Linked DNA regions of Homo sapiens: regions 1, 2, 4, 5 and 6 are each linked to region 3. Evidence: fine-mapped expression QTL. A gene starts in region 3. Each other region holds a variant in brackets. All regions are shown on one strand. Distances are from middle to middle. Region 1 holds the start of AS-PTPRE (lncRNA antisense to PTPRE protein-coding gene). Region 2 overlaps PTPRE (protein tyrosine phosphatase receptor type E). Region 3 holds the start of PTPRE (protein tyrosine phosphatase receptor type E). Region 4 overlaps PTPRE (protein tyrosine phosphatase receptor type E). Region 5 overlaps PTPRE (protein tyrosine phosphatase receptor type E). Region 6 overlaps PTPRE (protein tyrosine phosphatase receptor type E).

Region 1 (5,131 bases), 160 kb before region 3:
GCACTGCGGGGACCAGAGCACCTCCCAGCCTGCCCTTCCTGTGGGCTCCTGCCACCCATCTTCTGCCCCAGCTGAGCTCCCCAAGGCCTGGTACTCCCATCTAAAAATGGCAGCCCTTCCCCACAGTCCTCGCTACAATGCCTGGGAACTGCTGGGGCCAGGCCAGCAGATGACTGAGGAGCTCAGGACACAGCAGGCCCTGAGCAGGGCCGGGCAGGACACACGGCTCCCACTGAACCGGGCCTTCATGCCAGAACACGCCAGAAGCACAGCCTCCTAACTTCGCCCCACCTGTGGTAAGTGTCCCTCAGGCTCCCAGTTCTTCTTTCATTCTGGAGAGTGAGCTCACTGCCTATGGCATGGCTCCCTGCCTGTCACTCAACCCCACCCCCGCACCCAGGCTCCCCACAGCCACCACTTCTCAGCCCTGAATTTGAGCCCCTACTCCTTGCACCTGGGACAGAGCTGGCCCAGCACAGCAGATGCTAATGAGTACTTGTTACATTAGGAAACGAATCAGTTCAACTTTTCTTCTTTGTCAATGATTCAAATTCTTATAACGTACATGCATCCTTTTTTGAATTAGAAACAGCTAATTAAATATATTCGGATGACAAATCAACATTTCTTCAATATACCAACGTTTTCCAAAAGCATTTCTCTAGTCTGGATAATAAGCGCGAAATCATGTTCATTTCTAGCCTGAGCTCTGCCGCATGACACGCTCAACATCCTAAAACTCTAAGATTCATGTCTCTCATCAGGCAGGCAGAGCCATGGGGCCAGCCGGGGGCCACTCTTACTTGGGAAAAAAAGGAAACTCTTGTGTCATTGTGTTATCACAGATTAGATAACAGTGAGATGCTGGGGACACAGGGGATTTGTTTCGTGAAGAAAATGCTGTAAGCCACTGCATGTGTTTGGGTTTTTTTCTGCAGTGATAGTGGGAGGAAGGGAGGGAAGTAGGAAAAGGAAGTGGTAAGAACATCCCCAGCCCGGCAGCAGCAGCTGAAAGGAAGTGATACCGGGGCCAGATGCCTGGAACTCACCTCTTTCCTTTCTTTCAAGTTTGTTAACATGACGATGGTCGCAGACTTTTGCTCCCAGACCATTCTCCAGAAGTCGTTAACCGTTTCCTGTTTGGGACCTGTGTGTAGAGGACAATTTCGAAGTCAAAAGGCATGAAGGGAAGTCCCTTTGGGGTCCCAGCCCCGGCACCCTGGCCGTTGGCCCCTGGACAGCTGTTCACTCCCTTCTCAGGCTTGTTGGGGACACACACGTCATGCCCTGAAGCGTTCCGGAACCGGTAGGGGCTGCCTGTCCTGCCACTCACCCACTCCAGCTAGGAACTCCTCAGTGGGCAAGATAATTGGGCCCAGGTTGAGTTATGACGTTCACAGGTAAGAAGCAGGGTTCAGATGAGGGCTGGGTCTACAGCCAAGTGTGGGAGAGCTGGTGAAAGCCTTGCGAGAGGCAGAGACTGGCCAGCCTCACCCTGCATTCCCAATCCCCTCCTCTTTGTCAAAATCTTACTCTCAGCATGGTGCTGTCCAATACGATATGAGCTAAAGTCCCTCGGGAGGGGGATGTGAACAACAGACAAAGTGTCACTAGGAGAAAGTCCTCTGCCCCTATCCACTTCCTGTCTGAGCTGCGGCTATTTTGCAGTCCCGAGCTAAGTGCTACGTGCTGAGGGGGATGGGCGGGGAGATAAGGAAGCCCCTGGCCCTGCTGCTGTCCTGCCGTGGGCTAGCTCCCTGTGGGTGTCTGCTGGCAAGAGAGAAACACATGCTTTCATCTGCTTCAGCCAGGATCGTCAGGTTTCCTGAGGTTTCCAGCTGGGCACATTCCTGATGGCCTCTGCGTGTGCACATGTGTGTCCTTTTTTCTTAGAGATTCTGCATTTGTAACAACTTCCCAGGTGATTTTGATGGACGCTGACTTTCAGAGCTCATTGCCCTAAAGACTCCTGGCCTAAGAGTGAGGAAGTCTGAGGAATCTGGTTTCAGCTCCACTGATATCTAACCGCACGTACACCAGGTCCTGCAGATGACAACCTCTGGTGGAACGGAGTGATGCTGGATTCAGTACTCAACACACAAGGTAGCCCTGTGCAAGGTGAAGGGCACGTTTTCACAGCTGAAGTATATTCTTAGTTATGGCCTTGATCTGAAAAGCTATTCACCCCACTAACCCCTCGCCCAAACTTGGGGAGCCATGTAGGGCTCAGCCAGCTGAGAGAAATTCAAGGTTATCTGACGCAAGTATTAACAAGCTGGAATGGCAGCCGGGGCCA[T/C]TGCGTGCCCTGTGTTCACACCATATAGGTGTGGGAATAAGTGTGTGTTTCTCTGACTACACATATCCGTTGTGTGAATGGATATCTAACGTGTCTGTTAGGTGTAAACACACACACACAAATCCAGTATAAGTCCTTGGTCTTGTTGGCATACAGAGAAGGAAATAAGAGCTATTCACGTTACCAAAAATACGTTGAGAAATTAATAAAAAGCTTACCTTGAGCTGCTATGAATTTATTCTTCTCTTTGTAACCCTAGAAAAAATAACATCAGATTTATATTTTTTCAGAATTATCTTTGCTGAAAGGATTTGTTGGTGTTGCTGTTAGGAAAGCAGTACATATTCACCATGGAAAATTTGCAAAACACAGGAAAAGGTTAAGAAGGAAAGAAAACTCACCAGCAATTCCAGAAATAACAAATCCTACTTCATACGTCCCCTCTCTAGTCTGTTTTTCTGCCAAACCTTTCCCAGACTCACCCACAAGCAGACATGCAGACATTTCTGTCCTCTAATTGGGTGAACATGTACAATTTATTTTATGTTGTATTTTTAATGGGAATTTTATAATTGATATTAAATGATCTTTTAAAGATTAATACAAATCAAGTTCTAATAGTCCACTGCACATGGTTTTACCACAATCTGTTTAACTACCCATGCTCCCTGTTCTATTTGGTCAGGAATATACATAATGCTGTAGTGAACATCCTCTGTGATCATCTCTGTCTCTTGAATTCAAATTCCCAGATGCTGATGCCAGTGTGTAAAGCACGGGCAGTTCCGTACCCTTTGTGCTTGTGGCCAAACTGCCCAGAAAGGTTGTGACAATTTACACTCCGGGCACCAGACAAGAAAGTGCTTACTGCTCATGCCCCAGCTGGGCCAGGGGAACAAGAAACCTCTGCCCACTTACATCTATGTAGGAAGCATTGATGTAGTCTGAACAGGGAATTCCATCCAGTTGGCTCAGAATCACCCTAGAATGGTCATCTGGAAAAAAAACCCAAACAAAGCCAAGATATTAGGACCAGGAATCACAGTGCTGTCTCTTCCAGAAATCACAGTGCTGTCTCTTCATCTGCAGTGTCAGCTCCTGGGAAGGGCAAAAGCAGCTTCACAGCGACACCAGGGATGGCAGAGATGTTCTTCCTCAGCGTTCCCATGGAGAACACTAGTGTCCTGAGAGAGAATGCACCTGCTTTGGTGAACACTGACTGTCTCAGCTGTGGCATGACGACAAGGGTAGGATTTCAGCATCCAGGATGGGGGCTGCTGGGTCATTACATAGCAAGAATAGCAGAATGTGCCAGGCCCCTGGCAGTGCAAGGGCTGTATTTTATGAACCCTGCACTGGGCCCAGCCCCAGTGTTGCCAAGTGTGGGTGCACTTAAAAGAGCCCCAGGACAGGAGAACTGGGTCCACTCTCCCAGGCTTCCCAGGGAAATGAGCACCAGCCCCATGAGGACAAGTGGATGTGGGGGTCTAGGATTGGGGACTCTGACCCTCAGTCCCACCACCGGAGTCTGCCCCAGAGCTGGAAGGCGAGCACAGTGAGGAGCGTCTGGTAGATCCAGCCTGTTGCACAAGCAGTTTTCCGGGGTAGAAGGCTGACCGTGGAGTGCTCTGTGTGTGGGGTGTGTGTGTAGTGAGTGTGGTGTGTGTGTATTGTGTGTGTGGTGTGTGTGGTTGTGTATGTGTGTAATGTGTGGTGTGTGTGTGGTGTGTATGGTGCATGTGTGTAGTGTGTGTGGTGTATGTGTGGTGTGCATGTGTGTAGTGTGTATGCTGTGTGAATGTGTGCATGTGGGTTTGGTGTGTATGTGTAGTGTGTGTGTGTGTGTGTGTGTAGTGTGTGGTATGTGTGTGGTGTGTATGTGTGTGGTATGTGTGTGATATGTTTGTGTGGAGTGTGTGGTGTGTGTGTGGAGTGTGTATGTGTGTGCGTTATGTGCGGTGGGTGTGTAGTGTGTGTGTTGTGTGTGTGTGTGTGCATGTAGTGTGTGTGTACACACACGTCAGGGCTCCATCATGACTTTTGTGGGTTGTAGTCACTTCTGCCTTTGCAGCTTCCTCCATAGAACTATTAAGAAGGTTATCTTAGGACTGGGTTGGTCGCCAGTGAAAAGATGCACTCCAGAATGGGTTTTGCACGTTTTGTTTGTGATTTGAAGAGAAATGAAGACATTTTCATGGGCTTCTAAAAGTGCTGTGGGCCTGGCCCTGCTCCTCCTGTAACCTTTCCCAGGAACGTCCGGCTCGGCCAGGCTGGGACCAGGCTGGTTCTGAGGACGTTTATGCTGCACTGGGCACAGAGTCTGGCATGTGGTAGAAGCTTAGGGTCTCCTTCCTGAGTCATTACTGAGTAACTCTAGGTCCTCTCCCTGCTTTCTCTGCTTAGTCTCTGATCAGGGTGGGTTGTGTTTGTGGTGTTTGTGGCGTTTGTGATGGGGAGCCGGGCAGCCCCCAGGTCATGCCTTGTTTGTCTCACCTTCACCTGGAAGGCTGCCAGGTGGGCCACGGGCTGGTGGCCTGCGACCTCCGATGGTTGAGCCAGCTCTGTCGGGCTGCCAGCAGAGAAAGGGCGGGTATAGCTCTGAGAGACAGTCACAGCCCACACAGGGTGGCCAGGGAGTCAGACCCCAAACTTACAGTCCTGCAGACCTCACTGTGAGACCCTCCTGCTCAGGGACTGGCAATGCCCAGGCAGAAATAGCTCTGCTGAACACATATAACACTAGTTGAAAATAATTTGGAATGGTTTACGCTTTGAGGACAGCTATAGAAAAGCACAGGGTAAAATATAGCCTTCTGCTTAGATTTAGAATCTTGC
Region 2 (5,131 bases), 140 kb before region 3:
CTCTTTAAGATCAACACTTAGCACAGCCACATGCAAGAAGGTGAAGATGCATAAAATTCAAAACACGACCAAGGATAAATACTGAATAGCAAAATCCAAGACAATACTTCCTCATATCTGTTTGTCTACTTCTCTATCTGCCCATCCATCCATCCATCCATCCATCTGCCCTCCCACTCATCCATCCATCATCCATCCACCCATCCATCCATCCATCCATCTGCCCTCCCACTCATCCATCCATATGCCCTCCCACTCCATCCATCCATCCATCCATCCATCCATCCATCCATCCATCCATCCGCCCTCCCACTCATCCATCCATCCATGCATTCATTCATCCATCCATCTGCCCTCCCACTCATCCATCCATCATCCATCCATCCATCCATCCACCCATCCATCCATCCATCCCTCTGCCCTCCCACTTATCCATCCATCCACCCACCCACCCACCCATGTTGATACACAAGCAGATATAGCTAGTGTTCTCTCAAGGCAGCTCACAGCTGCTTCATTAATGCCGAGATGGTGGTTCAGAAGAGGAACATCGCCTACTCTGATTAGGTGCTCCAGCTCTCAGAAGCCATGAAAGGATGGTTTGGGGCTCTGTTACTTTCCCCATGATATTGTCATACCGTGCCGCGCTCAGGTCCTAGCCTTCTGTGTTATCGAGATAACAGTGTTTCTGCCACAGTTGATTTTAGAACTTGACACTCAGAGTGGGGAGGTGTAAGGAGGCTTCACAAACCTCTAACTCAACTGTCTCATCTTATAAATGAGGAAATAAGCATTGGCAAAGGGCACTGCACCACACACCAGGTTTCCTCACACGCCCATTCATGGGACAGTGTCATAACTGATGCAAGGGTTCTGAGTCTTTGGGATAATTCATCCTGAACTCTAACACTGGATTTCACAGGTCTCCACCACAGGGCACCCAGCAGAGAGCCCTCCCCACACTCACGTTGAACTCCTCCCGAAACTGCTTGCAGTCGTCGGCGGATCTGATACGGATCTCCTCCTCCAGGTGCTCCACGGGGATGGGAAAATACTTCTTGGGCCCTGAGGGTGACCTGCTGAGCAGCATCACCCTTTGCTGCTCTGTGGGATCAAAAGAAACATGGGGGCCATTTAGCCACATTCCTGGATAGGCGACTGAGTAACCAAGCTGACCAACGACATTCCTGAAGAAATGACCAGGCTGGAGCTGGAACAGTTCTCTCAAATCGCATAGCTGGGCTAAGCCGGGTCCCGAGCAGCTGTATCCAAACACTCGCCTCCTGTGAGGCATCCACATCATTTACAAGTGACGGGCGTCCCTCTGCCCAGTGTCACCTGCTCTCCCCCATTGGAGACAGCCTGTCCCCCTCCCGAGGCCACTCATCCACCCACCCTCCCACCTCTCCTTCCCTCCAGCCCCTGCTCCTTCCAAAAAGGATTCAAGACGGCCTCACTCTCCAGCTCAGCTTTCCAGGTTTGGAAATAAGAAAGAGTAATTACGGCTTCTGGGAGCAAACTCAGAACGTTCTCTCTCAGCCTTTTCTTCTTCATAACAAATATTCCTGGTTCCTCAAACCCCATAAGCTCCAAGGGAAAACCACCCTTGTCTGGGGAGGGTGACAAGGGGCATTGAGAAGGAGAAGTACGCGTTATAAGGGAGTTCTTGGACACATTCCTTCCCCAAGTTCGGAGTGAGAGGCAAGAACAGTTATGGACATGTCTTTCTCTTCCTGGAGAATGAGCTGATATTGACAAGGTCAACATGATAACCCAGCTGTCACACTTGCAAAAGGGCCTGTCCCCACCTGCAGAGCCATTCTGAAGCCCAGCCAAAAACTTCACCCAAGACTCATTCCTCCAAGTGACAGATGGGATCAGAATGAGTGATGCTGAGCTTCCCTGCTACTCACTAGCCGCACCCTCCTCCCTTCCGTTCCTGCTATTGAAACATTCAGGGCAGGGAACCGGGGACTGGAACGAGGGCAGGAAGACAGCACCTGGTGCCACATTATCGTCTAACCAGGTCTCGGGTCCCGCGAGCGCTGGGAGGCTACATTTCAGCTGGGTCCTTGTTGGTGATATTCTTTTAATGATCTAAGGGTCCGTTTTAAGAGTCTATTTTAGTCTGACGGCACGTGTGTTCCCCCAAACCATAGAACTGACTACAGTTAGGTAGGAAGCTGACTCCAGGAAGTTGTAGTCACTGGGGTGTGAAGCAATATTTTTGTGGCCTCTGCCTTACACACGTTTCTCGGTCATCTCATCTCTATGTATGGAGAGAAAAACAATGTTCCTTTGTAAGTAGCGACAACAAGTTCGAAACTGTACTTCGGATGGAAAAGTTGGAAATGCTCCCAGCTGACTCTGATGCTCTGTAAACATGAAGCACTTCAGGAGAGCGAGTCTCTTTTTCCAGCTGGATCCTAAAGCAGTACAAACCCAGCTGAATAGTTTCTGAGCCAGACAGTCTTATCTGAGAATGATTGTAAGGCCTCACTGAAAAGTGTTACATGTCAACACCCTGTGAAAACGACAGGATATGAACAGTCTCTCTAAAAAAAGCCACAAACAAAAATGTCTCAAACGTCCATGTCACACCCGAGAGAAAAATGATCCTTAAAGTTTTGAAATAGTGAAATTCTAAATGACAGCATCATACCAGGTAGAGTGAGATGAAAGTGGCAAGGCACACCTCAAAATTTACTTTGAACGTTAAAGGCAGAAAGCACCTCAGTGTCTGCTAAAAAAGAACACATTTTCCCCCAAGCCCCAGCCAGAGAGCAGCTTCTGTACCTTGCTCCTCCAAGATTCCGTTGGGCATCTTCTTGTCGCTGGTGCTGACCACAGCTTTCCTCTGCTTCCTGAACCTTAGAGACACAGGATGCGTTAGGTTTCCACACTTCTAGGTTCCCCGAGAGCCAACAGCGCTCGGCACAGTGATACCCACCAGGTGAGCCGGGAAAAGCTACTCCTGTTGCTCATGGCTGAGCC[G/A]CGCTAAGGCCTGGCCTCTGTGTGTCTCCCAGGCCCAGCCACCCAGCCTCTCAGCTGCCCTCTGCTGCACAGCCCACGCCCACAGCATCAGAAGGCTCATTTCCTCCTCTGAGCTGGTTGGGGCAAGTCAGTGCCCCGGGACACTCCTACCTGAAGAAGTAGGCGGCGAGAAGGAGCACGAGGAGGAGGAGCAGCAGCGGCAGTAGCAGCCAGGCCAGCAGCGGCTGGGAGGCGCCCGGGTCCGGAGGGCCTGCAGGAGAAGCAGAAAGACCCTAACCCCTGACCTCACTTCACAGTTTGCAAAAGAGTCTCCCTCCATAAGCCCTTCTTCCTGGACACCAGAACCCCAAACTATATTTTGTAAAGTGGATCCATCATCCTGAAAAGGCCCCACGAGGTAACAGAGAAGCGACTTTAGTTGTTGCTGTTGACTCAGAGAAAGAATCCGGGACTGAGGAGTGGGTGAGGTGACTTGTCCAAAATCCCTGGGGCAGGCATGACAGGGGTGAGTTCCCCAGACCCCCACACGGCCTGGCTGCCTGGCTCTCCTGCTAAGAAGCTGGAGAAGGGTGAAGGGGCCGGTGTCCACTGCAGGGTCCTAGGACAGCGCGGGAGGCTGACTCGGCGTAGCTCAGCTCTTAGGGCCCCTTGGGCTTGGGCAGGAGCTCAGGCACAGGGAGGCGGCCTGGCCCTGGGGCTGGGCAGAGGCCTGTGGCCCTGGCGCACTGTGACCCCACCTTTCAGAGCCTCCAGGTCCCGATTCCACCTGTCAGAGGCCGAGTGCCCAGCCACCACCGGCCTCTTACTGTGTCCTTTGTACCTGACAGGTTGACCTTCCTCACCCAGAAAGAGACCCACAGCCCCAGGCCCAGCTAAGTGGCTTTGTTGCTGCTCAGGACCCACCCCTGGCTCATCAGCCCAAATTCCAAGGGACACTGGTGGCCTCGCTGCCACCTTTGGACCCCACCCACTCTCCCAACGTCGCACTTTGTTCCTGCTCCTCCCCCGCTGGCCACACAGCCCCCTCATCACCAAAATGTTCCCACTCCTCGAGGACAATCTCAAAGGCCCCCACCTCCAAGAAGCCCACTGGACTCCTCTCTTGTGGACCCAGAGGGGCCCTGGATGCCTCAAAGCGCAAACCTCGCTCTGCCATGAGTGAACAGGCCTCAGCATGACTGCCTTGGCTCCCGGGTTTCTGGGGAAGCCCCTCGAAGGCAACGACCGGGCTTCCAACTCTTTAAGTTCCCAGAAGCACCAATCACTTGCCCTGAGCCCAGCGCAGGGTCCATGCGCTTCCTCCTGAGGGCTGGCACGGCCTCCCGAGGGTGCTCCGGGCACTGGGAGGGCTCCGCAGCCCCAGAGGCTCCGCTCACCTCACACCCCTCATCTGGATTCTAAAAGGGACCCTCATGCCTTCCGCCTTGCACCCTAGGTTATAAACTCCCCAGGGAAGGTGTGGCTTTTCCTCCCTCATCCCCTACCCTCCCAGGCCTGGCACTGACTCTGGCACCCTATGAGTGGTCCGCACCATCGTTTCTCATAAATGATGAAGTTTTAGGGACGTGGGTGACCATTAGATGTTGAAGTTCACAGAGGAAACAGCTGGTCTGTGATGCGGAGGTGGCCCCAGCCGTGAGAGAGGGCACTGTTCACCTGGCCCACCCACTAAGTGCCCACCTTCCAGGTGGGGTCCGTGCCTCCCCCATCTGGCTAGCAGTGTCAGTAGCCTGGCAGCCTGGCTGTCCTCTGCAGCCCCCACACTCAGGTGTCTGTGACCCTGGCCCAGAGGAGCTGGTTCTGGCCCCACACAAGGTTCGGTTGGTGCTAGGATGAGTGGCTGGGTGTGGCTGCCACAGTCCCCCGCCTTTGACCTCCAACCTGCCCACAGCAGAGCTTCCCTGGGGAAGTGAGCTGGCCTGAGGCTTCCACACTTGCAGCTCCAGAGAGCACCCCTCTCCACTCTGCCAGGGCCCTGGAGCAACTCCGACAGGCTGAGTGGGAAGACCCCTGACACGGAGGGAGGGGCAGCCTGGAGCCCAGCCCCACGGAGGGCCTGGCTGCTGCTCACACTCCAGACTCAGCCAGAAAGCTTGGGCCTCGGTCCCCCTCCTCCCTCTCGAATGTACCCAGGTAC
Region 3 (5,131 bases):
CATCCCTGGAGAAGAGGGGGCTCCCATCAGGGCACAGTGCTTCAGGACCTCCTCCAGGCTTCCGTGGAGGTGGCGGTGCTGACACAGGGAGCGCATCTCTCTCTGCCAGCTGTCCCCCACAGAAATGAGAGGTGGCCTCTGTGTGACTTTCCGCATTGTCCTCACTTTGTGTCCACACAGGGCCTCCAAGAAGCATCACACGTAAAGACAATAACACCCTCATCGACTTCCCTCAACTGGTTTGACTGGAACTGATGAGGGAGTGTGTGACTAAGTCCCAAGCCATCTGGACACATCCAGTGACCTGACCTTTTACAGAGACAAATCTAGCTCCTAGCTCTTGTCCACATGGGAACGGTCTGTTGGGGCAGGGAGGGGGCGGTGGTGACTCACAGGCATCACCAACATCAATGAACAAAAATCTTGGCCCCCAAGGTCAGATTCAGGGGCAGAGCCTTGTCTGGGAAGGGCTGGGTGGTACGTCAGGCCTCTCTCACTGACAGCGCAGCCCCCACCTCTTGGGCCTGCTCCACCTCGCCTCTGACCTTTTGCTCCCCAAATGCCAAGAGCCTGTGCTTGGAAAGTACAGACCCTAACCCTGTTCACACCACAGAGCTCTGCCCATACCATGCTGGCTGAGTGACCGTGGTGGTCAGACGCTTGCCCCAGCCACTGGCCCCCACCATTTCATGCCCTCCTCTGGCCATTATCCCAGTTTTGGAAACGACCCTCCACACCCCCCCTCCCCACCCACATACACACAGTTTAAATGGACAAGAGTCGTTAGTGTGCAGAGGCAGAACTTCATCCATCTTTGGGACACAAAGACCTCCAGACGCCCTGGGTCAAGGGGTACCTGGGGCCAAATGCAGAGCTGACTGGACATGGACACAGTAATTTCTGTATCACGTGATCACTCTTTGCTGGTGTTCATTCAACTCACCTATACGCTCATTCACTCTAAAATACAAGCAGAGAGCTGTATTCTTTCTTTGAGTTTCCTGGATTGAAACTCTGATGGAATGGTCACGACTCAAGACAAACCAATATCATAATTCTGCAAGTATAATTGCCTAATCTTTCTGGAAAGGTTTGCATGCCTGGAAGGAATTTAGGTCAGGTCCAGCGCGGTCTCCATCCGGCTTGGCTCTGCCTCCCCATCCTGTGGGTTGCCCGGCCTTCCCCAGATGGTCCCGGGAGCTCTCAGAATTGGCACCGCGCTCGCATCTGTGCTCAGGAGCCCTGTGAGGTCGTCGACCCTGCAAATCGCGGCAGTCCAGCCTGGACCACCTGCCAGGGTCTCCCTGCCGCATCTCCGACCCCCGGCGGCTGCTGCATCCCGCTCCACCTGCCTCCCTGGGAAGGCGCGGGCGCCCGCCCGGCTGCGGGGCAGCATCCTGGCAGAGCGCCGGCCCCTCCCAGAGTTGGCACAACTCGAGCCACTTTCTTCAAAGGCTCCAGCCTCCAGCCTCGAGTGGGCGCAGCCCCCCACGCGCGGCCTGCACCCCCTCTCTGTGTCGCCCGCTTTCACGTACGCCGCCCTGCCGCCGGCCCCCGCGCACTGTAGCCACCCGCAGACACGCGCGCCCTCCTCCTGTTTACCGAGAGGGAGCGTGAGCACTGCCACTGTGGTCGCCAAGTTGGGCTGGGGACTCCGGGTGAGGGGACGCGCCACAGGCCGGGGTCGGGGGTCGTACGGGCCCCAGCCGCTGGTACTGGGCGCGCCGCGGGGGCGGCGGGGCCGGGGTCCGGACTCTGAGCCCCGGAGCGGCCCCTCCCTCCCGCGGCAGCGGCCGAGGCAGCGCCCCGGCCTGCTTGGGCCTCCCGGGGTGCACAGTTCCCCACAGGGGCGCAGGGTCCCTGTCCGCACGCGCGCTCACCTCGGGGGGGCCGGTCTGGTCGCGCAGATCGCGCTGCAGCGGAGGCTCCGCATCTCCCGGGCGCCTGCCCGCCGCCCTCCGGGGCGCCCGGCTGTCTTCGCCGGGCGCGAAGAAGGGTCGCGGGGACGCGCAGAGGCCGTGGGTTCCTGAAGCCGCTCGCGCCGGCTCCTGCCGCCCGCTGTCCGCAGCCTAGCAGGAAATTTGTCCGGCCGGCCGCGTCCCGCCGCCGCCTCGGCTCCAGCTCCGGCTGTGGCTCCGCGGCGGGGGCGGGGGCCTGGGCGCTGCGAGGAGCGGGGGCGACGCCTGGTGCCCGGCGCGGGGAGCGCATCCAGGGCGCCCGCCCCACCTGCGAGGCGGGTATGGCCCTGAGGCCCTGCGGCCCTGCCCTGGGAGCACCCAGACACTGTGGGCATCCGTTTACTCAAGGCTGGTGCCCCTTCCGGGGAGGCCTGGTCCAGCCACTCCGCCGGGACCCAGGTGCGTAGACAGAGGGTCAGGGTATGGCAGGCACTCACACCTGGTGGAGAGCAAAGGCAAGGCCCTGCCTCTCCCTGCCCTATCCCTGTGCACCAGGAAGTGGCCTGACTAGGGACTCGCCCTGGTCTTGCAGCAGGTGTGGGACACGCAGGGCACCCCGTGCGCTTCTGGTGCGAGGAAGCTGGGAGAGCTGTGAGGTCGCTGGGCCTGGTGGCCTCCTCTGGAAAGAGGAGGGGATAAGGCGCCTGTCTGGGGGATGTAGAAGAGGGCTCGCTTGTCCCGAAGGCAGTATCTGTCAAAGTTAAAAACGCACAAAGAGAAAGAAGAGCGACAGAGCCAGGCACTGGGCCTGCTGTCTAGCCGACTTCTTCCAGGGAATTTCACTCAAGCTATTTAGGGAGCTTTCAGAGAAAAGGCAGTTCCCTGGAAGGAGCAGAAAAGACACTGGTGGCATGTTGGTTCTGAACCTTTGTGCCGTGCCCTCTGGATGGGGCCACGGCCCAGCCCTCATGAGGGAAGCTGCATTCTGTGGTAGGGACCCAGCTCATTAGGCTTATGAATGAATGAATGGATGGGGAGAAAGTGGCACTTACGGTGTGTTACCCCACGTTGCACCGATTGCCAGCCGACGACTCTTAGCATACTTAAGGCCTGTTTAGACAGAGCTACGGACCCCAAAGGCTGCAGAGCAATGGGTGCCTCCTGGCAGAGGCCACCCCCACGTGATTTGCCCAGAGTGGGACTTCCCCTCCACAGGGGCCGGAGAGCTGCGAAACCAGTGGAGAACTTGAGCTCCACCTCCCTGCCCTGCCCTGCCCATTTCTGTCCCTGGGGGCCTTGTCTAGCCCCAAAGCTTTAAACACCATCCGTATGGGAATGACTCTAAGCAGCACCACTCTGGGGCCCTCTCCTCCAAGCTCAGCTCCTCCTGGCTGTCTCCTGCTGTCTCAGACCTGCCTCTTGCTCTTACTTAGTTTCTCTGCAGTCGTCCCTGTCCCTGCCTCCGTGTCCCACCTCAAGTCCACCTCCCAGAGGGCCCAAGTCCACTTCCCACTGGCTTCTCCATGCATCTTGCCCTTTCATCTCACTGCCTGCGCCCCTCCAAAACCTGCAGTGGCTCCCCAGCTTCTGACCCACTCTCCCAGATGATCCATTCTTCACACTTGGTCCCAGGCACCTCACAAAGTGTAAACCGGGTCCTGCTAGCCCCCTGCTTAAAAGCCTCCAGGAATATTAAAACCCAAACTCCCACGAGGCTCTGCCTGACTTCCCTGGCTGCTCTGAGCCTCTCACCCCTGCCCGCTGGGCTCCAATCACGGCTCCTTTCTCTCAGTGCCAGAGCCAAGCTCCTTCCTGCCTGGGACTCCTCCAACCAGTGCACCTGGTTCCTTCTTACTGGTGGCTTCTGGAAGATCGCCCTGCATCCATCTCTTCTGCCACTCTCTTCCACATCCTCCATCACAGTTTGGAATTATTTGTGGGTTTATTGGCTCCTTTTGTGTCTGTCGTGCCCTCTTCCCCTACCCCCAGGGCTGTAAGCTCCAGCAGCCTAGGCTCTGTTGATCTCCATGGCTTCTCAGACTCAAGCTCCTAAAGCAACGTCAGTAGCCAGGAGGTGCTCAGTGAAGGCGTCTGGGCTGTCAGAGCAGAGGAGGATGGGCCCCAGCCAGCAGCAGCAGACAGCCTGGTCACCTCGGAGCCCAGCAGGGCGGGTGGCTCCCTCCTGAGTGCACCTCCAAGGAACAGCCCAGGTTGAGGTGGGGCCAGGTAGCACATGACGTCACCAGGCTTTGGATTTTTCTGCTGTTGTGGTCTACAGAGTCAGGCTTATGTACATGAAGGCCATAATTACAAAGCTCTGCTAAGCACAGTTTTGCTTGTTAACGCTGCAGGGCTGAGGAGGCAGAGACTGTGAGCTAAGAAGACAGAAACAACTTGCCTTTGTCAGACATCTGCTATTGGAAAGTGAACAGCCTTGGTAACATGATGGGGAGGCAGATGGCTCTTCTTTCCTCATAATATCTTCTCTGCTGGACCCCAAAAATTCTCAACCCTTTCTAAAGTCTACAGACATTCATCATTGTCACACAGAAGCGTGTTGTCAGAAGTGTTTGTGCCAGGGCCCTGTTGATTACCACAGGGAAGCCCTTCATCCTTCTTCACCATCTTCATTTTTGCCTCTCATAGGCTCAAGGTCCCTATTGACATCAGAGTCAATTCCCCTATCCTCCTCCCAGGCTTTGAGGAGCTCCTCTGCCTCTTGCCCTCCTGAACACCTCACCACTCCTCTTTTAGGGCCCTTCTTGAGTCCACAGAGTCCTCTTCAGCTCCCTGGCACACTGGCTGTCTGATCCTGTCTCAGGCCTGTCCGTGGCTGGCCTCCTGCCCGCTCTCCCCAGGCCTCCCCTACACCCAACCATTTAGCCCCTTCCCTCTAAAACACAGCTTGAGGCAGTGCTCCTGCGATTATTGATATTAACTGCACTTACTTGTCTTGTCTTCTATTTTACTTGAGGACTGGGCTTTTGGGTTTCTCTGCAGAAACTGAGATACTGCCCATCATGCTTAGAGGGCCCAATAGATGTCAATTAAAATTAAAATGCTGAGGCCAGGAATACTGTCTAGGAGAATAAGCAAAAAAAAAAAAAAAAAAAAAAAGGCAAAATCAATGTGTGGAAAGCAAATAAGAAGTTGCTTTTAAACATCATACAGAAACATTCTCATAAAGTTATTCAACCTTAGGAGGAAAAAAGCAGGTCTTGATCATTGATTGG
Region 4 (5,131 bases), 180 kb before region 3:
TGAAATTAAGAGATTTAAAGACAAAAACACAGGCTGGTAGTCAAAGTAAAGGTTTATCCTTGCATCAGAATGGTTTAAATCTTGCAATTTGCATATACAAAGAGTTCAGCAACATTCACTGGCATTATAATCAGAGCAAGATCAAATTATAAATGTAATCAAAGAAAATATGATAGTTGAAACTGTAATAACATACATACATTATAAAGACTGCACATAAGTTAAACACAACTTAGTTAAACAAACAAACAAAAAAGTATCAGTAATTATACACTTAAAAGAATAACATGGGGATGTCTCCAAATGCTGAAACACAGGTGTCAGGCTCATTTAAAAAAGTGTTTAAAAACACATAAAAATACCTTTTAAAACACTGGTATGCATTCTTCATTCATATAGCACATGGAGAGAAACCGTAAAGGCAGTCACATAGTGACCAGATCACACACAGATCAGAATGGTCGTCTTCTAATCACTATTTGGCATTTGAACCCAACTGCATGCAACAAAGGAAAGTGTGAAAGGAACAATGGTGTCGGCACTGGGCTGTTTGGGGGCTGTTTTGTTATGTACAATGGACTTTCTTTGACTGAAGGAAACAAGAGATGAACTTTCCAGGTTGCACGGAGAAGATTCTGAGTCCCTCAGGGATTGATTCCCCCAGCGTGAGGTGCTCCAAGGCCCAGGAGATCCTGTGATCTGGGGCCTTGGTAGAGGCCATGAGGCTGTAATGACCTCCCCGCTAAAGGGCGAACGCTGTCCCGGACAGTGGAGGGGAGAGTCTTGCGTCCTGGGGAAAGTGGCTTCTCCTTTGTTCCTGGAATGGAAAAAGTTTGGGAACAGGCAGAACCCCTGCAGTGGACACCTGGGGTTGGTCTAAGGGGACAGGAAAAAAACATGAGCAGGGCCCTTTCCTGAGGGCACCCTGAAAAGGTCTACCTTAAAGGTACTTCTTGATACAAGAGATGCCAGTTAGACCATTAAAGGGCTTCAAGGATTCTGACAGAGGGCTCCTAGACATGAACCAAAGCCGGTGCCCCTCGACTTTGACTTCGAACTCTCAAATAAATGACCAGAGAAATGTCACCTTCATCGTAGCAAACTGGCTCTTTTTCTAGGGTTCAGGTGCTGAACAGAAGCTTACTTCCCTCTCTTCTCCTTCAGTCAAACAAAGGCTTTGGGTTTGGAATTTTAATGGTGAAAACAAAAGGGACCTGGCGAGCCTCAAAAAGCTCCATTTTCCTCTTCCGCCGAGATGCTGAATCATTGTACAGAGAAGGAGAGAGGAGCACGTTCAGCAGTGTGCAGCCCAGGCATGCAGCTGGTGAGGATGGCGGTCACAAAGTGTGCTTTCGTCCTTCCAGCTGGGCACCAAGTCTTGCCCTTGGATGGGGCTCAGAGCCGTGGAGTGGGCGAGAAGCTTGATTCCCTGTGAGCATCTATCAGAACAATAATGTGTCCTGGGGTTGCATTTGCACACACTGTTAATGAATAGGGGACGAACACTGCAACATGAGGGTGCGATCAGTTATCAGTGAAAATGTCAAATAAGGCCTTTATGTAGCTTTTAGAAAACAAAAAAAAAAGTACCAAAAATGCACGTGTTAAATGCTTTTAGTAGTAAGGTAGGCCAGATATCTTTTTGTTTATATTGTGCACATCTGCTAGGTACCTAATGGCCATAGAAAGATAACTGCTGTAAGATTCAGTGTTGGTACATTCACACCCCATTCTTTTTTTTTTTTTTTCCCCGTCAGTCAATCTTATCTGGTAATGGGATCATTACTGTTATCCAGTGTCAATGGTCTCAGTAGTATTTCCATTCAAAAATAATTTAGCTTTTAGATTAAGGATTTCTCTTTTTGTTTTATTAAACATTGAAAGGTGGGACTTTAAAAAATGGTATAAATCTAGATTTTAAGGATTCTTTTCTTACAAACTGTCTCAGCTTTTTACAAGAAATGTTTAAATACCAAAATGCTGCTCAGAAAATTTAAAGTTTAATTGCCCGTGGTTATTCTACTGTTTCTATCCTAATGTGTGCTCCTCTGTACTGCGTGTGTAAGACGCTCAGTTCATCTGAATGTTTGGATGGGAAGTTTTGTGTTGAGCCTCCAGGCATAGCACTGGACCAGCCCAGGCCGCTGTGGCAGAACGGGAGGGGAGAATGGGAGAGGCAGCTGGTTTTTTTCTGAGGGTGGTCTGGGCCAAACGACAGGCAGCTGGACAGCAAATGGTGCTTTGGGGTGTAACTCCGATGGCTGGTTTTGTTGTACCCAACGCCGTGGGTCAACGGGACCACCCAGCATTTACATCTCTTCTCGTTCAGCCAAGATAGTGTAGACACAGTCTTGATGGTGTAGACACAGCATTTT[A/T]AAATATTATTTATAGTCACCAGCTACTCTAGTGTGTTTTAGACCTGGATTCAGGTTGTAAAGACTTCTTTGATCTTTAAAATGTAAAGATAAACCACATGGACCGAAACTGAGAACTTTACAGAAGTCCCCATTTACATTGTACCATCACGAACAGTTTGCCTTCCAAAAATGCTGCTGTTCAGGGTTGTGAATTCACTGTTAGGAAAGTGCATTTTCGAACTGACTTCTGAGTCCTCAACTGTTTTCTTAACATGAGCTTTGTGTTAGTATCTTGCAGAGGCACACTTCGCATATTAAGATTACAACATTTAAAGGTGTTGAATATGTGAAATTAAATGATATGAATCTAATGAAAAATTAAGATATTTACTAATATTAGCAGAAATATATATTTTATGGGATATTATTTGACCTTAATACATTATTCCAATTTTTAAAAAGCATATTTAAGATTTAACAACTGTATAGCAGGTGGCCTTTAAGGCATAACAAAATATATACAAAGAAATTAGGGAAGATATTAATGTCAACTATGAAATAAATTAACATGATTTTTACAAAATATACTGACCATTAAATTAAAAAATATTTTAAGGCAGGAATCTTCATTTGAAATTAGCATAATCAGAAAATATATCAATAAAATCTTGTACCACTTTGTAGCAGAATTCATACTGTTCCTGAAAAGACAAACAAGGACACATTAAAATGATATTCCCAAAAATATATTTGATTAATCAGGAGAAATACTCAAAAACAAGACATAAATAAGTGTGACTATTCATTAAAATACCATATACCTTTATGCACATCGTAATTTAGTTTTTAGGCACATGCAGAATTCCAAATAAAGCTGTTTTTCTACGTAGAATGTGTCAGTTAGTGTATTAACATTTCAACTTAGTGTATTTAATGGGCTGAGTTAAATGTCTGTGGCTTTCACATTGAAACTGGAAAACAACTATTTTTGAATTTAAAAAAAAAAACAAAAAACCAGGCCAGGTGCAATGGCTCAACGTCTGTAATAAGAGCACTTTGAGAGGCTGAGGCAGGAGGATCACTTGAGCCCAGGAGTTCCAGACCAGCCTGGGCAACATGGTGAAACCCCATCTCTATCAAAAAAGATACAAAAATTAGCTGGGCATAGTGGTGCACACCCATAGTCCCAGCTACTTGGGAAGCGGAGACAGGAGGATTCCTTGAGCCCAGGAGGCAGATTGCAGTGAGCCAAGATTGTGCCACTGCACCACTGCACTCCAGCCTAGGTGACAGAGTGAGACCCTGTCTCAAAAAAAAAAAAAAAAAAAAAAAAAAAAGAAAGAGAAAAAAATCAGAGTACTAACATTGCCAGATAAATTTCATAAAGCGATCTATAAAAGTTAAATAAAATGCATATCTAGATTATTTTAAAGCCTACATTTACTGTACAAAAGGGACATTGTTTTATATATAGGCTGGTCCTCCCAGACCCCTGGGTGGGATATGTGAGTTTGGGGCCGGGACAGGGGCTTGGAAAGCCGGAGAGGCCAAGAGCTGTCCTCAGCACCTCCCTGCTTCTTTCCAACACATTGCACTTGGGCTCTTCTCAGCACACAGTGAACAAATATCTAAATGCTTTTGGGTGGAAAGATGCCAAACAGCTAGCTTAGCCCTTCCTGAGTCCCGGTCTGGCCAGGATGGGAAGGAGCTGAGTTTTCCAGAGAAGGAAAAGGTGAGCCTGAAACTTTGCTTCTGAATTTGCATGAAGTTGTTGGAAGAGCCAAGACCACATTGTAGGGTCCTCACTTCTGGCTACTAAGACACGCAGCTGATCACCCAGCCTTCAGAAGGAAAGGGAATTGAATTCTTAGAAGGAATTCTCAATAAATATACAGGCTCTCTTTAAAGAGGCAAACAGCTTAAAGCAACATTGACTTTTCCAACTTAAAGCAACATTGACTGAATATCAAAGCTGGCTCAGTCTGGGATGGAAATGGAGACGATCACTAATTACTCTGTTTTCATAGCTAACACAGCAGCTAACTGCTGACCATCCCACGTAGTCTCGAGTACAAGTGATTGGGGCCAGTGATGGATGAAGTGTACTTTGGAGTGTGCTCGGATGATACAAGCCACACCTCAGGTCACAGACAGACATTTCTGGTCAATCCACAGACTCCAGGAGAACAGATGTACTTGTGGCCTTTGAAATGTCAGTTCCAACCAAAGCCTACCTAGGATGCTGGAAGCAAGTCTTCCCTGAGTGCTCAGCAATTGGAAACTGGTTCTTGGGCCACTGTGCTCACCTGCAGGGCTAAATCAACCTGCAGGTCAGCAATCATCTCTTTACTCAATAATATTTTTGTGCCTGTGTTTTTTTTTTGCCAAAATCTCCCTGCCAAATGTTAGATCTGGCAGCATACAGTACTAGTTAAGCCTTTCCCTTCTGGAATCAGATAGAGTTTGAATCTCATTCTGACACTTAATACCTGAAGATCTCAGGCAGGCCCCTCAACCGTCCTAACTGGAGGCACCTGCAGAACACTCCTTGTGAACAGAAGCAGGCACAAGGGCAAGCAGATGGTGAAGATGAAATGAGAAAGACATCTGTAAGGCACCTGGTTGCACTGCGCCCAACGCCTGATGGTTATTTAGTGACTCTTCTCCCTCATTCGTTTGCTGATTCACCACTTGCTCTGGAGCCCTCGCCACGGGCCAGGCATTGGACTAGACCCTTTACTCTAAAAGTCAGGCTACAAAGTGCTCTGTCAAGC
Region 5 (5,131 bases), 150 kb before region 3:
GCCCATGCCCACTTGTACTGCTGGGGTTAAATCAGGTCGATTCAGAGCCTTCCTACAAAGCTGCTGCCCACCTACAAATTTCGTATTCTATTATTTTTGTCATTGGTCCAGGACCCCAGACAACTCTAGGGATTTGCAGCTTGTGGTCACAAGCACTGAGTCTGAGGGAAGGGAGCTGCCCAGGGCCACTGGCAGGCCTAGACTGGGTGCCAGGCCTGAGTTCCACAGGAGGGGCCCTGCCAGCTGGCACCCATGGCCACGAAGCAGCACCCTTACCCGCTGGGCCCCAGGCAGCCCAGGTCCCAACAGTAAGCATAGGCTTGGCAGCCAGACCCACGAGCAACCAAGGTACCCAGGGCCTGTGCAGGGAGATGGGCACCTAAAGAGGAACGTTCTGGAGTCCTAGGTGCAAATGCTGAGCAGTTAGACTGATTTGGGGCCTCTGAGCACCAGGAATGGCCTGCAGTCACGGGGAGCTGCAAGGCAAAGCTGAGTTTAGTGCAAACACCATTGATCATGCAAAACATAAAATAAAATCTTACTGGGAAGGATGTTGGGATATCTGTTTTTTTCTCTGTTTTCTTCTTTATTTGCCAGTTCAAAAGTTCCTTGTATGTGTCCAGATGGCAATGACTGGAAGAAAATGTAGCATTAGTATGAAATGTGATGGATTCAAGCACCATGCTCATGTCAGTTTCCCTACTGAGCACAGGAATTAATGAAAACACGTGGAGCAAACTACCTGCTGTCCATAGTCCGTCTCTGCCTCAGACCTTGCACCAGGCATGGGGCAGAGAATGAAGGAGACACAGACCCTGGCTTTCCCCAGGGTGCTCTTTCATGTGGGGTGAACAGTGGTGTGGCCAAAGTGATGGTCTCATCAGCCAGATCCTATGCTGCATGAAGGCGGAGACTTGCCTTTGCATTTCCATGGTATCTCAGGGCCCATGGACCCTGGCCTAGAGCAGGTGCCTATGATTTGGTAAGAACTGACTACGACAGAACTGTGAACCGGGAGATGGGGGAGCGAGGACAGGCATGCGGAGGGTTTACAGCGGGATGCTGTGACTTTGGGGCTGAAGGATGAATAGAGCGGTCCTGGGAGGCAAGGGGCGGGAAACAGCCTTAGATACAGTCCTGATCTTGCTTAAGACTCCAGGTGTGCTCTGTGGACCAGTGGCTTGGGCACTCCCGGGAGGGTGCTTGTTAGAAATGCAGATGCTCTGTCCACACCCCAGACCCACAGAATCAGCACGAACATTACCATGATCCCCAGGGCTTCAGTGCACACGTCTTTGGGAAGCACCACGCTAACCAACTCCTTTGTCCCAGTCAGGGAAGTCAGGTGTGCAAGGAATGCCGCGGGGCCCCTATCCCCTCTGAGCAGCATAACCGAGCGTGAACTCTGGTGGCCTGCATTCTAGTTCTTTCTGCCGCCTGCAGCCGCCATCTCTGATTCCTGGTCATCTCCAGCTGTCTCCTGCGTCTGCTCGCTGCTCAGGTGAGCTCCCCACAATGCACAGTGTGAAGAGCCTCTTGAAGCCCTGAGTCCTGTCCTTTGACATTACACCCGACCAGCGGCTGGACCCGGGGCCACTGGGATTCCAGTAACATGCATGAATATGCACTGAGTGTCTCAGTGCGCCAGGTACGGTGGAAGGAGCTGGGTCATCTGCCCCAGCCTTTGCAACTCACCTATCATTAGGTGATACTAGGATGGTCCCCGTTTTATGGGTGAGGAAACTGAAAGCCAAAGCGAGGTGTTATAGATTTGTCCAGGGTCACCCAGCAAGCAAGGGGCAGGAGCCTAGAGCGGCACCCAGACTACCAGGAGGATGTTCACTTCTTCAAATGTAGGAGAATGTGAGGGGTCCCGCTGCAACTACCCAGGAGAGCAGAGCAGGCCTCACTGCGTAGCTTTGGATCCAAGCCGTGCAGGCCTGGGCTTGCTCACAATGCAGAGCACAGCCTGACCTGCCACCCACAGGTGTCCCGAGTCTTCCTCTCCTGAGGGCAGGAAGCTTCTCCAATTGCAGACTCAGATCTGACCAGCTGGAGCTCATGGTGGGGCACCGTAGGCCGCCCTCTTTCCTCTGCTTTGGGGCCACCAAACCCCATGGCCACAGGTTGAGGCCCTTCCAGGCCATGGGGTTTGTTGGTCCCAAAGCAGAGGCAAGAGGGTGGCCTATGTGGAGGGACCTGTCTGGCGGCACTGTGGCAAGGGTGATAGGTGGTTCTTGGCCTCATCCCCAGCCACCAGCACCTACGCCGCCTGTAGTTCCTGATTCTTCATCAGGGCTATCTTAATACTGACCTTCTTGACCTAATCTAAGCCTGACATCTGTGGTAAAATTCTAGAGCCTTCTCTTTTTCTACCCGCAAAAGCTTTTTTTGGCCCCAGCACTGAAAATACACGGGAGGCATGATACCGGATGGTGGGTACATGATACTGTGCATTCGTCAAAACCCACAGAATGCGCAACACACAAACCCTGACGTGTGGACTTCTGCTAGTAACAACAGAGCAGTGTTGGTTCATCAATTGCAGCAGTTGAAACACACAAATGCAGGAAGTTAATAATAGGAGAAACTGCTCACAGGGGAGGAAGGGGGCATATGGGAACTCTGTACTTTCTGTGCAATTATTCTGTATAGCTAAAACTGCTCTAAAATAAAGTCTGTTAAAAGATAAATTAGGCCAGGTGTGGTGACTCACACCTGTAATCCCAGCACTTTGGAAGTCGAGGCGGGTGGATCACCTGAGGTCAGGAGTTCAAGACCAGCCTGGCCAACATGGTGAAACCCCGTCTCTACTAAAAATACAAAAATTAGCTGGGCATGGTGGTGGGCGCCTGTAATCTCAGCTACTTGGGAGGCTGAGGCAGTAAAATCGCTTGAACCTGGGAGGCGGAGGTTGCCGTGAGCCAAGATTTCACCACTGCACTCCAGCCTGGGGGACAGAGAGAGACTCTCTCTCAAAAAATAAATAAATAAAT[A/T]AATAAATTAAAAGAAATTGAGAAGGCTCCCTGGAGGGATTGGATGGCGAGGATGGACCAAGCTCTGACACCCCACGGTTGCGTGTTCCTGGCAGCTGCAGAGATCCAGACCATGGAGATGGGGCGTAGCCACCCAGATGCACAGAGGGTCAAAGTTGAAGTGGGGAGGGGCATCGGGCCCTGTGCACCGCACACGTATGTATCCTGGATCCAAGTGCACAGAATAACCACCCACATGGACTCTGCAGCCCTTTCTCTGGCTGTCAGTCTACTGGGGTCTCAAATCTCTGAGCTGCTCAGGTGGCCCAGGGGAAAGGAGAGCACCTGGAGGGGTCTGCACACCTGGATGAGCCCTGCAGTGTCTTGCTTGGGGCTTGCTCATAGTAACTGGCCAATAAATATTGTGTGATTGGCTGTCCCATTATGTAAATTGTCCAAATTGTTTGTGGTTTGTCTGTTTGAGGTGAGATTTCATTTCATTTCTTTCCTTTTTTAACATTTTTATTTTTGAGACAGGGTCTCACTCTGTTACCTAGGCTGGAGGGCAGTGGCGCGATCTCGACTCACTGCAACCTCTGCCTCCCGGGTTCAAGTGATTCTCCCACCTCAGCCTCCTGAGTAGCTGGGATTACAGGTGCACACCACCACGCCTAGCTAATTTTTGTAGTTTTTTGGTAGAGATGGGGTTTCACCATGTTGGACAGGCTGGTCTGGAACTACTGGGCTCAAATGATCTGCCCACCTTGGCCTCTCAAAGTGCTGAGAGTACAGGCATGAGCCACCACACCCGGCCTAGAGATTTCATTTCAATGAACTCATGAGCCACGTTCCTTTCTCTCTCCGCTCGGTAGTGTCGGGCAGGCAGCAGGAGAGTGTACAAGAAGCTAGGTGTGGGCAGTTCTGCAAGAGGCCCCAGCTGCTCTATGGAGCTCCAGGGAATGGTTCTGGTTTGTTTGTTGTGCTGGAAGCTTTGCGGTTGACACCTCCCTCTGCACTTTTACAGCACGTATCAGTGTGTTAGTCCTAGGCACTTGGCTTGACATAACTTGCTAGGATGGAGGTAGGGACGAGCCTGTCTGAAGCGGGGGATTTTCCTTGGCCCAGTGGTGCTCACTTTCCAGGACTTACTCTGGGGCCTGGAAGCAGACTTTCCTAGGATGGTGTTCTACCAGTGCAGGGTGGAGATTGCAGAGTGCGGTCTCGTAAGGATTCAGTTGCATGTCCAGGTTATCCAACCTCATGTCCATGTTATCACAATCCTATGGGGGGCAGGGAGTATCCTCATTTCATAGATGAGGAAACAGGCAGAGGTTAATTGCCCAAGCTCTCTGAGCCGGGACAAACACTCAGGCCGACTCCAGCATTCACTGTACTGACCCCAATATCAAATCCTTTTCATCCCCACCAAGTTTGCCTGCACTTTGAATTGGCAATGCACACATGTCAAAACTCAACTGGATCGGCCACTTTGAGACTCTGGTGTCTCCCTTTCATGATTTTGGGGAGAGGAGCTCAGATCAGACGGCAAGAGAAAAGAAAGATGGGGTTGGGAGCATGTCCCTCTGAGGACCCAAGAGAGAGCTGGCCATGGCAGGCTCCAGTGCTCTCAGAGGACGGGTGCTGCATCAACGTGGACTCAGGACATGGCCAGCCCTTCACTGGACAGATGAGCAGAAAAGCACAGCCTGGACATCACAGTGGGACCCCATCTCTACAAAAAAAGTAAAAAAGCCAGTGGGCATGGTGGCACATGCCTGTAGTCCCAGCTACTTGGGAGGCTGAGGTGGGAGGATCACTTGAGCTGGGAGGTTGAGTCTTCAGTGAACTGTGATCAGGCCCCTGCACTCCAGCCTGGGAGACACAGCGAGACCCCATCTCAAACAAACAAATAAAACAAAAATATGACAAAAAAGCAGCTCCCCCAGGGTTCCCCAGACACAGGATCAGGCTCCGTGATCCTGACTTTGGGTCCAGTGTTCTTCCCCTCCACCGCGTCTCTACCCTGCCTGTCACTGAGCACAAGGACTCCAATGTTCAGCCAAGGGCCACCCAGTGGCAGAAGAGAATGAGGAACTTCCTCTGGGTGCAAAATTTAATGGGGTGCCCCCAAAATTCAGAAACCAGGGGAAATAATA
Region 6 (5,131 bases), 160 kb before region 3:
AGAATAGACAAACCCATAGTCAGGAAGCAGATTAGTGGTTGCCAGGGGTTAGGGGAAGGAAGGAATGGGGAGTGACTGTTAATGGTACGAGGTTTCCTTTTGGGTTGATGAAAATGATCACAGATTAGATAGTGGTGGTGGTTGCACAACTCTGTGAATATACTCCAATTCACTGAATTGTACCCTTTAAAAAGATGAATTGCATGAATTATAGGTGAATTATATCACAATAAAGCTGTTCCTTTTTAGAGCAAAGAAATAAAAACACAAATACACAGCAGTAGTTATGTCTTGGGGGAGAACCCAGATAGATGTACATTGTTGGTAAACCTTGGGTTTACTGTTGTCTTCATGTCTTGAAAAAAGTCAATAAATGTCTTTTTCTTCAACAGGTTATGATCTTGGCCAATACCAAATGGCAGAATTTCAGGGCAGGTTAAATAACATGTAGGCTAAGGATAAAGGGCAGCGGGTAGCTATGGTTAAACCTCACTCCCAAAAAGGGAAAGGGTGAAATGAAACCTTTTTCATTTCCAATCTCTCTCCTTCCCTAGTGGTCCTGGCTTGGTCTCACCCATGTGTTTGCAGTGATGGCAGGTGGGACATTTGTAATGAACGGGGACAGTGCCTCAGGTGCACAGGCTGCCCTGGAGGGACCGGGCTGGGCGGCACTCCTCACCTGCTCTCTCTCCTGCACCTCCGTCAGCATCACGATAGTGTGGGATTTCCATTCCCAGATCATCCTCCAGAAGTCCTCAACCGTGTGTGCCAGTGGCCCCTGGGTGGCGATGAAATAGTCCTTCTGTCGGTAGCCCTTCAAATGGAGGCGCAGAGGTTAGAGTCTGACTTCCTTCCATCCTGGCTCCATTACCTGCTCCCTAAGTTTAGGACAGCCTAAGGCCTAATGAGGAAAACTCTCTCATCCTCCATGGTCTGCACCAGACCCCAGTTGGCACGAGCACTCAGGCACACACCTGACAAGCAGGTCAAGAAGCTCGCTTATCTGAAACCATAACGGCCACCGTCAGCCCCTGAGGTCATCAACAAATGGGTATTATGAACTGGTAGTTGCCTGTGGCCACCTGAACAGCACCTGGTGGCTTAGATTCTAACATGTTTCTGTGTGTTTCAGCTAGATCAGCATGGAGCCCACCGGATTCTGGTACAATTTTCTCATCTGCAAATGGCAATATGAACACACACTTGGCTGCCATTCCCCCTTTTGCCCTTCTTCTGCGAACTCCACTGTGCATGAAGACAGCCTCTGTGTGCCCTGAACACATAATTGTATTGTCCACGTGGGTACACATTGCAGAAATCACACAAGAGAAAGAGCACAGAGGCAGTGGATATATAATTGGTGTGTAACAGATATGTAAAAGAAAAATAACTATATATTAAAAGCAGAATGAAAAAAGAGCCAATTACTTAGCAGCGAGTCTATGTCCTTCTATTTCCAAAGTCCACTTTTTTTTTTTTTTTTTTTTTTTTTTGAGAGGGGGTCTCGCTCTCACTCTGTTGCCCAGGTTGGAGTACAGTGGTGTAATCTCAGCTCACTGCAACCTCAGCCTCCCGGATTCAAGCAATTCTCCTGCCTCAGCTTCCCAAGTAGCTGGGATTACAGGCACCTGCCATCACGCCCAGCTAATTTTTGTATTTTTAGTAGAGACGGGTTTTGCCATATTGGCCAGGCTAGTTTCAAACTCCTGACCCCAAGTGATCTGCCCGCCTTAGCTTCCCAAAGTGTTGGGATTACAGGTGTGAGCCATCGTGCCTTGCCACTTTTTTTTTTAAGCAAGTAATTCTGCTAACAAAAATGGCTGAGTTTCTGGAAACATGTCAATTCTTTCTCATTGTGAAAACAAGCTAATCAAGTCTGTGGTCACATGTGAAGGAAACACATCTGCATAAACACAACCCAGGCCAGCATACGTACGTCTATGAAGGATGCGTTGATGTAGTCTGTGTATTCTTGACCCCTTTTCATGGAAAGGATCACTCGGTTGAAGTCATCTGCAAAGCATTATCTTCCTTTAGTTATTACAAAAAGGGTCCCACCTTGCTAACTTTAATCCATTGCTACAAGCTTGCAAAATATAGATCCTATTAATAAAATCACTACGTAAAGCCAACTCTTTGGAAAGTTTACGTTATGAGAGACGATAATTAAAGTGGCTCAGGGGTATTTTTCTTTTTGAAGGAAAACTCTGAAAACCACCCAATTATCATTTTCATTTTTCAGGAATCGATATAATACATACCAAAATACAAGCACTAAAAATATTGCGCTGAAGGAGTAAATGGAATGTGGCCAGGCAAGCAATCTAGAGTGGCCAGCAGGACACCGGGGCCCCAGAAAACCAAGGGCCAGAGTCTGAAGATGGCAGCACCCCGGGGAGCTCTACTCGCCTGCAGTGCTCGGGGAGACCCTGCTGCAGCAGGCCTGCTCCCAGCTGTTTCCAGATGGTGTTTGTTGAGCTGTGACTCTGTCGAGGACAAGTCTATAACGAGGCACACCCTCCTCCCAAGCGGGGCATCTCCCACCTCCCTCCCTAGTTCCTCGGATCCCTGTGGAGTCTGCTTTGGGGCCGGGTTTCTCAAGTTTCTCTTTTTCCCACTTGGTGAGCCTCCCGATTCCCACTCCCCTGCCCACTGCATGTGGCCCTGTCTTCTTGCCAGCTTTGCCTCCACTCCTCCCACACCTGCCAGGTCCTCCTTCCCTCTCCCATGACCTGGGTGGCAGACCAGTGTCCTGACTCTACCCTAGGCCCATTTCTTGTCCTCCTCAAGGCCACAGCCTTTTCCTAGGTGGTCTCAGCTGAGTTCACCTGCATGGCCTCGGCTGGGTGGCTCAGGCCCCTCTGTGTAAGGGGGAGGCGGGCCTCTGCCCAGGCTTGGGGAGACAAGGAATGAGACAAGGAATCCCAAGTCGTGCCTGCCGCAAATCTCCAGCTTCTGTGAAGCCCTCCCCTGAAATCAGCCTCGGCTGCCCTCCCGCATCTGCAAGCTCATATCC[G/C]AAGCAGCTTGCCTGAGACCCATGCAGGACTGTCTGGGTCAGCTGGTGCTTCACAGGTGTCTTTTCTACCTGACATTTGGTACAGCACACAGGAGCCCTTAGCCTGAGGCCAGAGGACACCCTGCTTTTGACCCTGGTGCACAGGGGTAAGCGGTCAATGGCTTCTCCAGGATGAAAGCCTCCGGCACCAGCCCCGCCCCAGCCCTGCCCAAGCCACGCCACGGGTGCCTTACACGGGATGATCTGGATGACCCTGGCCTTCTTCATGTTTGCCGGCAAGTTGCCCGTCCTCATGTTCTCCTTCATGATCCGGACATTTGTCAATTTCTGCAGCAGAGAAGGATATAATGACACAGTTAAACCTCTGACACTCCTGAGCACATTGCTCAGCCGAGGACTAGTGCTGCTGGCAAGGACGCCTGCTCAAAGGAAACCACTCTCCAACCCAGGAAGCCTCCTTAGCATTGGGAAATACAAATGTGTGCCTAGTAGGGCTGCTATGAGGCTCTGAAAGCCACCTGATCCTTCTTCCCTTGTAAATCATGGCTCAGGTATTGCCCCTGCTTTTTCTGAGGTCAGTTAAGGGGCAAGTGATTGAAAGAGGCTTCCTTTAAATGGTCACCTGTTTTCCTCGTGCCCTTGGCTGCTTACACCAGGATGGAGAGGAGGGTCAGCTGTACTCACCCTGAACTCCTCCTCCAGCCCGATCTTGTCGAAGTGGGTGGTGGTGCCGTGCATGGTCTGCAGGTGCTTCTCCAGGGAGGACACGTCCAGCTCTGTGTCCCCGTAGAGGTAGTACTCGAGTAAGGCTTGGTAGATGAACGTGTACTGCATCTGCAGAGAGGCCAGGGGTGCCCACACCCTCAACTCTGCCCTGCAGTCTTGGCCCACGTGGAGCTTGGCAGACCAAAGAGGGCGGCTTTCTTCTTTTTCTCTTTTTGCCAACACAAGGAGGTGTGAGGCAAGAGTCAGAGTACCGGCCACGGATAACGACCATTTATGCCCTTGAGTAAGGAGAACGGTAGCAGCAGAGCCTCACATTGGTGAGCACGCCACGCACTGTGTACATGCACCGTTTGGGGGAGTAGGATTGCCCCATCTCACATGAGGATACGAGGGAAAGATGAGGACGAGGGAGTCCCTGAGGTCCCACGCGTGGGCAGGGAAGGCTATGGGGAGCGAAGCCAGGCCAGGCCCAGGCTGGTTGCCACGTGCCCATCAGAGCCAGGGCCCTGCACACCTGTGTGGCGAAGGCATCGGGTTTGCTTTGGGAAGCTAGATCAGGGCAAGAGGAAGGCATGACTCACATCCGTTTGAACCATCTGAGGGCGCTGATTACGGATTCGAGACACAAATTCAAACACATCCACCTTCTGCTCCGCGTGCATCATGGCCATCATGGCATCGATCACAATGAAGGTGCCCGTCCGGCCCACGCCCGCGCTTTGGGGAAAGAGAAAGATGCTGCGTCGTGAGTCACACTCCTCCCGAAGTAAATGAAAGGCCCCGAAGGGGCCTGCGCACCCAGGTCACTGGATGCAACTTTTTGTTTTTTTGGTTAATTAGGAGCAAAGCTACAGTGCAGCCACCAGAGGGAGCTGTGGTCTCAGTAAAGTGATCTCAGGCCGGTCCTCTGATAGCCACCGACACTCTACTAAGAGGCACATTAACAGCTGGTGCAGTAAGCCTCGGATTAGGCTGTGTGGAGAATTTTTCTCACTTACCAAACAGTGTCTTCTTCTTATATGTGTGATTGGCATCCTAGATCTGTCCCCCTGGGAGCAGAGGGACCTCAGATCAACTATGCAACAGCTCTGGTATCCAGCCTCCCTCTCTGTCAAACTGGGCAAACCAAGTCATCTGACTCGGGGCATTAAGTGAGGTGGCATCTGTCAGATTACTGTTATCTGACCCTGCAAATTCTTCCCAGTATGAGCTACACTGGAGGGTGGGTGGGGTGGGGTCCAGCCTCTGCTTGGCCCCAGCAAGCGAGTGTTGCTCAGACTTGGGGAAAGCCCGTTCTTCGGGGGTTCCTGGACGGCTTCTCGTGAACACCTGCATGACAGGTGCAGAGCGCCTGCATCACTGCGTGCAGGTGGCTTTTGTCCCTGGCAG

The links. PIP is the estimated chance that this variant, and not a neighbour inherited with it, causes the effect.
Region 1: its variant is fine-mapped to the expression of PTPRE in whole blood (TOPMed, PIP above 0.99).
Region 2: its variant is fine-mapped to the expression of PTPRE in whole blood (TOPMed, PIP above 0.99).
Region 4: its variant is fine-mapped to the expression of PTPRE in whole blood (INTERVAL, PIP 0.95).
Region 5: its variant is fine-mapped to the expression of PTPRE in whole blood (TOPMed, PIP above 0.99).
Region 6: its variant is fine-mapped to the expression of PTPRE in whole blood (TOPMed, PIP above 0.99).

Annotation. Positions count from the first base shown.
Region 1 is chr10:128,059,099-128,064,229 of GRCh38, reverse strand. PTPRE (protein tyrosine phosphatase receptor type E) reads right to left here. Exons shown (of 21, transcript NM_006504.6): 8 at 3,215-3,291; 9 at 2,515-2,551; 10 at 1,050-1,147. AS-PTPRE (lncRNA antisense to PTPRE protein-coding gene) reads left to right here and starts at 1,805. Exons shown (of 3, transcript NR_136150.1): 1 at 1,805-2,103; 2 at 3,386-3,543. RefSeq lists enhancers at 124-722, 1,062-1,271, 1,682-1,731, 1,063-2,262. The variant T/C (reference allele first, on the strand shown) is at 2,297.
Region 2 is chr10:128,045,503-128,050,633 of GRCh38, reverse strand. PTPRE (protein tyrosine phosphatase receptor type E) reads right to left here. Exons shown (of 21, transcript NM_006504.6): 4 at 3,145-3,244; 5 at 2,797-2,870; 6 at 968-1,104. Among named protein-coding and RNA genes, the nearest start is that of AS-PTPRE, 14 kb to the left of the region's middle. RefSeq lists enhancers at 2,846-2,895, 3,196-3,265, 4,674-5,131. The variant G/A (reference allele first, on the strand shown) is at 2,995.
Region 3 is chr10:127,904,059-127,909,189 of GRCh38, reverse strand. PTPRE (protein tyrosine phosphatase receptor type E) reads right to left here and starts at 2,087. Exons shown (of 21, transcript NM_006504.6): 1 at 1,881-2,087. RefSeq lists a silencer at 2,124-2,243.
Region 4 is chr10:128,080,759-128,085,889 of GRCh38, reverse strand. It overlaps PTPRE (protein tyrosine phosphatase receptor type E), which reads right to left. Exons shown (of 21, transcript NM_006504.6): 21 at 35-3,058. The coding sequence ends at 2,984. Among named protein-coding and RNA genes, the nearest start is that of AS-PTPRE, 21 kb to the right of the region's middle. The variant A/T (reference allele first, on the strand shown) is at 2,376.
Region 5 is chr10:128,051,625-128,056,755 of GRCh38, reverse strand. It overlaps PTPRE (protein tyrosine phosphatase receptor type E), which reads right to left. Exons shown (of 21, transcript NM_006504.6): 7 at 543-633. Among named protein-coding and RNA genes, the nearest start is that of AS-PTPRE, 8.2 kb to the left of the region's middle. The variant A/T (reference allele first, on the strand shown) is at 2,997.
Region 6 is chr10:128,069,020-128,074,150 of GRCh38, reverse strand. PTPRE (protein tyrosine phosphatase receptor type E) reads right to left here. Exons shown (of 21, transcript NM_006504.6): 13 at 4,324-4,459; 14 at 3,701-3,850; 15 at 3,250-3,343; 16 at 1,937-2,013; 17 at 680-814. Among named protein-coding and RNA genes, the nearest start is that of AS-PTPRE, 9.2 kb to the right of the region's middle. RefSeq lists a silencer at 4,615-4,812. The variant G/C (reference allele first, on the strand shown) is at 3,017.